2 separate regions of the Homo sapiens genome follow, and region 2 is linked to region 1. The links come from fine-mapping of genetic effects on gene expression. Tissue or cell type: whole blood. Region 1 holds a variant in brackets; the other region holds the start of a gene. All regions are shown on one strand. Distances are between the middles of the regions. Region 1 has its middle 24 kb from the start of NEK6. Region 2 holds the start of NEK6 (NIMA related kinase 6).

Region 1 (2,906 bases):
TATATATATATATATATATATATATATATATATATATATAGAAAGAAATCACAAAGAAAACTAGAAAATATTTTGAGCTGAATAACAATGAAAATGTAACATATCTAAGCCTATGTGATACAGATAAAGCAATACAATAAAGGGAAAGTTATAACATTAAATGGCTTTATTCAAAAGGAAGAAAGTCCCAAAATAAATACATTTGCTAAGCTTCCACCTTTAGGAACTAGATAAAGAAGAGCAAATTAAACCCAAAGCAGGTAGAAAGAAAGAAATAATAAGATAAGAGTAGAAATCAATGACTAGAAAACAGAAAAACAAGAGAGAAAATAAATGAAACCACAAGCTGCCTCTTTGAAAACATCAACAACATTGATAAACTTCATCTTCAATCAGTAGAAAAGAGAAAGTCACGGGCCAGGTGCAGTGGCTCATGCCTGTAATCCCAGCACTTTGGGAGGCCGAGGTGGGAGGATCACGAGGGGAGGAGATGGAGACCATCCTGTCTAATGTAGTGAAACCCCGTCTCTACTAAAAATACAAAAAATTAGCCAGATGTGGTGGCGTGTGCCTGAAGTCCCAGCTACTCGGGAGGCTGAGGCAGGAGAATTGCTTGAACCCAGGAGGTGGAGTTTGCAGTGAGCCGAGACAGTGCCACTGCACTCCAGCCTGGGCGACAGAGCAAGACTCCATCTCAAAGAAAAAAAAAAAGACACAAATTACCAACAAGAAAAATGAAAGCCTGGGTGCAGTGGCTCTGCCTGTAATCCTGACACTTTGGGAGGCTGAGGCAGGAGGATTGCTTAAAGCCAGGAATTCAAAACCAGCCTGGGCAACACAGCGAGACCCTGTCTCTACAAAAAGTAAAAAAATTCGCTGGGTGTGGTGGCTCATGTTTGTAGTCTTAGCTACTTGGGAGGCTGAGGTGGGAGAATCCCTTGAGTCTAGGAGGTCAAGGCTGCAGTGAGCTATGATAGCGCCATTACACTCCAGCCTGGGTGACAGAGCAAGACCTTGTCTCAAAAAAAAAAAAAAAAAAAAAAAAAAAGAAAGAAAGAGAGGGCATCCCTACACATCCTGTGACCATTAAAAAGATAATAAGGAAGTATTGTGCCCAAAGTTATGACCACAAATTTGACAACTTAGATGAAGTGGGCATATTCCTTGAAAGACACAAACTAGCAAAGTTCTCAAGAAGAAACAAAGGGAAG[C/T]GGAAAAGATAACTATTGGGTACTGGGCTTCATAGCTGGGTGATGAAATAACCTGTACAACAAACCCCCATGACACATGTTTACCTATGTAACAAACCTTCACATGTACCCCCAAACCAAAAATACAAGTTTAAAAAAAGAGGGAAAACATTACTTTTTCTCTCTTTTAGTTTGAGAAACTAGCAGTTAATTTTTTTTTTTTTTTTTTTTTTTTGAGACGGAGTCTCACTCTGTCGCCCAGGCTGGAGTACAGTGGTGCCATCTAGGCTCACTGCAAGCTCCACCTCCCAGGTTCACGCCATTCTCCTGCCTCAGCCTACCCGGCAGCTGGGACTACAGGCACCCACCACGACGCCTGGCTAATTTTTTGTATTTTCAGTAGAGACGGGGTTTCACCATGTTAGCCACGATGGTCTCAATCTCCTGACCTTGTGATCCTCCTGCCTCAGCCTCCCAAAGTGCTGGGATTACAGGCATGAGCCACCACGCCCGGCCTAAAATTTTATTATGTGAATATGTATGTTAGTGATTTCATGTTAGCATATATGTAGCAAAACCAATAAAACTGTCATCAGCATTGAAATAATAAAATGTGTTGGCTTTTTTTTTTTTTTTGAGACAGAGTCTAGCTCTGTTGCCCAGGCTGGAATGCAGTGGCACGATCTCAGCTCACTGCAACCTTTACCTCACCAGTTCAAGCCATTCTCATGCCTCAGCCTCCCGAGTACCTGGGATTACAGGTGTGTGCCACCACGCCCAGCTGATTTTTGTATTTTTAGAAGGGACAGAGTTTTGCCATATTGGGCAGCCTGGTCTTGAGCTCCTGACCTCAAGTGATCCACTCACCTCAGCCTCCCAAAGTGCTGGGATTACAGGCGTGAGCCACCACACCCGGTCTTTTTTTTTTTTTTGTAAGACAGGGTTTCATTCTGTGGCCCAGGCTGGAGTGCAGTGAAGCAATCTTGGCTCACTGCAACCTCCACTTCCTGGGTTCAAGTGATTCTCCTGGCTCAGCATCCCGAGTAGCTGGGATTACAGGTGTGTGACATCACACCTACCCAGCTAATTTTTGTATTTTTAGTAGAGATGGGGTTTTACCATGTTGGTCGGGCTGGTCTTAAACTCCTGACCTCAAGTGATCTTTCCTCCTCGGCCTCCCAAAGTGCCAGGATGACAGGCGTGAGCCACTGTGTCCAGCCATAATATGTTTGGCTTTGAGTACACTGTTTAAATAAAGCAACACCTAAGGGTGTCACTGGGAGGTCTATGAAATAGGCTGAAGTATTAAAAACCAAGCAAAAATAGTAAGAAAAGCTGAGAAAGAAACATGGAAAGGAAAAAAAAAGGAGTGAAAAAAGATTGGCAAAGTAGTGCCTCACCAAGAAAATGTCTTTCATGCTGTTTAGTGATATTCTCGGTTAAAAATTTCTAAAAGCTGTGGAAAGCAAGTCAAATTTTGTTCTAGCCTTCTGCTGTGAAAACATTAGGTAACAAATATGTGTCAAATCTATTGTTTTCCAAAATATGGTGTTCATGCTTGAAATACGCCATTGCCAAATAAAGTCTATTTTTGATATACATAAAAAAAGAAGAAACAGAAAACCCAAATAGTCCTATACATCAATTAAGGAATAGAAATTCATAGTAAAAACTTTCTCATGAAAAAATTTCCCAGCCCAGATGGCTTCACTGGTG
Region 2 (2,906 bases), 24 kb after region 1:
GCAATACGCTGTCTCAGAACTTCGATTTCTTTCTATTATTTGTTGCAGTGTTTATTTCTTCTATTTAACTTTTCAATCTGTCTGACATTTATTGTGGTGTATATCATGGGAGGCAAGGCTGTAAACAGATCTCCAGCTAAACGGCTAAACAATTTGCAGAACAATCCATTTCCTCCCCATTGGTTTGTGATGTCTGCATTTTCATCCACAAGAGCTGGGACCAGGCCCGCTCCTGTGGGCCAGCTGCTGCCTCGTCTGCCCTCTTGTTCCAGAAGCCCAGGGCTATGCTGTTCCTGAGGCAGGGCTGCCTAGTGATTGGCCACACAGGCACTGGAATTAGACAATCTGCCGTGCACTTTCCAGCTCAACCACTTACCATCTGGGTGACTTTGAACAAAAGAATTTGCTTTTTATTGTTGTTGTCCAGGTTGGAGTGCAGTGGTGCGATCATAGCTCACTGCAGCTGCTAACTCCTATGCTCAAGAGACCCTCCCGCCTCAGCGTCCCGAGTAGCTGGGACTGCAGGCAGGCACTACCACACCCAGCTAATTCTTACATTTTTCTGTAGACATGGGGTTTTGCTATATTGCCCAGGCTGGCCTCAAACTCCCAGCCTCAAGGCATCCTCCCACCTCAGCCTCCCATAGTACTGGGATTACAGGTGTGAGCCACCGCACCCAGCCTGAAATTTCATTTCTAAGCCTCAAAGCCCATCTGTAAAATGGGCACAAGGGTAACGTTGGCACACGTGGTGGACGCTCCGTTGGTGTCATTATTACAGATCACGGCCAGTTGAAGCACTTCCACTCATTTGGCAAACAGAAGCCAGACGGGCATTCACCCTGTGCCCAGTACAGTGCTGCGCCCAAGCAGGCAGTCAGTGTCCCTGGCTCCAGCCCTCCTGGGGTGCAGCACAGTTTTGAATGTGGAGGGGAGGCAGCAGGGGTGGAAACAGCCCAGCCAGGAGCGGCCGCTCTCGGTGCGGGGAGGAGGTGAAGTGAGAACTGAGCTGCTTGGGTCTCAGGGAGGCTCTGACTTCTAGAGGGGGCGTTCAACATTCTTTAGTGGGGACTTTTACTACTTCCAGAAACCTCTGCACATTGGCTCTTGCTGGTCCCCCGGGGGCCACAGGAAGTGGGAGCTCCAGATGAAGAGTCGCTGGCACTTTGAGGGCAGGGGGCAGGGCCTTCCCCTCATCGGAATACTCTTGGAGCCTACTTCAGTGCCTGCATTCAGCTGGTGCACAATAAGTGCTTGTTACTGTGCCAATTTCAGTATGACTAGGGCTGTGGTAGGAGCAATGCTAGGCGATGGGGAATCCGAAGACGCACAGGAGTCCAAGGGTTGGCTGACTGCAGACCCTCATCATAAGTCTAGAGCCGGAGAAGATGGGGAGACGCCGGCCTGCGCCCTGTGAGTCTGGGCCTCAGTCTTCCCATCTCTGAAATGGGGAAGGGGTTCCTCGGCCGAGCGGATCGGCCGCAGAACTCGGCGGAGTCGAGGGGTCCAGGCCCAGGAAGGACGCCGCCGGGGCGCCCCCCGCCCCTCAAGCTTGCGTGGCGGCAGCGCGCACGAGCGCTGGGGGCGGCGCGGCCCCGCGGCGGGGAGGGGCGGGCGCGCGGGCGCGCGGGCCCGCGCAGGCGGTGGCGGCGGCGGCGGAACCGAGCTGACGGGCGTGCGGCCGCTGCGCCGCAAACTCGTGTGGGACGCACCGCTCCAGCCGCCCGCGGGCCAGCGCACCGGTCCCCCAGCGGCAGCCGAGCCCGCCCGCGCGCCGGTGAGTCGCCTGGGGCTGGGGCCGGGCCGGTGGGGCCCCGCGGCCCGGAGAAGGGCGGGGGCCGGGCGGCGGGGCCGTCACCCCCAGCCGGGCCGAGGGCGGGCGCGCGCCCACGGCTCCGCGGGGGAGAGCGGGAGGCGGGCGCGAGTGTGGCCGCGCGGGGCTGAGCGTGTCGGCGGCCGGGCGGGCGGGGGCGGCGTGTCCGCGTGTCCCGGGGTGTGCGCGTCCCCGGCGGGTGTGCGTGTGCACCCCGGAGCGTCTGGTGGCGTTGTTGGGGTGAGTGCGTGCGGGGACGCGGGCATGGCTCCCCGCTACCCACTTCCCGAGTGGGGACGACGGGCGGAGGAGTGTGCCGGGCGCCGCAGGGAGTACGTGCGGGTCTCAGGGAGTGTGTGTGTGCACGTGTGTGCATTCCAAAGTGATTTGTGTGCAAGCACATGCGTGAGCCTAGAAGGGCGAAAGTATGCCTGTGTGGGTGTGAGTATAACGAGTGTGCAGGGCCGTGCGAGCGTGTTTATTACTGAGGTTGAGGGGCCGGCCCCCTTTGCGCCCACCAGGCCTTTGCACAGTGATGGCCCCCGAGCCAGGGAGCCCGTGGAGAGAGAAGCGGCCTGGCATGGGCTGGGGGTCGGGGCTGGGCCTGATCCGGTGAACCAGGGGCCAGGAGGGCAGACTCAGAGCCTGGCTGGGCCTGACAGAGGCAAAGGTCTTAGAGCCAGGCTGCGGCAGGGCCACTGGCAGGACCCTCTCTGCATACACAGGCTGGGCGAGCGGAGGCTGTGGTGGGCCCCTCGGCCGGGCACCCGAGGACGTGTGTTTTCCTAAATATCCTCCAGGCTCTCCTGTCTTTGTTCTTGTCTCTCTCCAGCCAGGCCTGGGGGGCTGACCCTAGACTTGCCTGTGTATGTGGGGGCCTCTCTGCCTGCCCTGCTAAGTAGACGGATCTTTTGATTTATTTATACCTCTCCTAGGCTCCAAGTGTGAATCCCAGGACAGTAACAAATTGATCACAGCGGGCTTGGGACACCAGCTTCCGAGGTCTGTCCTTGCAGTTTTGACTGACAGGCTTTTGTGTGTGTGCGTGCTCTCTAACTGTTGAAAATCTTTGCAGCTGAAAGTCTTAATTGCT

The links.
Region 2: it holds the start of NEK6, and the variant in region 1 is fine-mapped to the expression of NEK6 in whole blood (INTERVAL, PIP 0.97).

Annotation. Positions count from the first base shown.
Region 1 is chr9:124,232,064-124,234,969 of GRCh38, forward strand. No RefSeq gene overlaps it. Among named protein-coding and RNA genes, the nearest start is that of NEK6, 24 kb to the right of the region's middle. The variant C/T (reference allele first, on the strand shown) is at 1,212.
Region 2 is chr9:124,256,309-124,259,214 of GRCh38, forward strand. It overlaps NEK6 (NIMA related kinase 6), which reads left to right and starts at 1,641. Exons shown (of 10, transcript NM_014397.6): 1 at 1,641-1,777. It overlaps LOC613206 (a long non-coding RNA gene), which reads right to left. Exons shown (of 2, transcript NR_149024.1): 2 at 2,902-2,906. RefSeq lists silencers at 1,661-1,790, 1,851-2,220 and an enhancer at 2,258-2,906.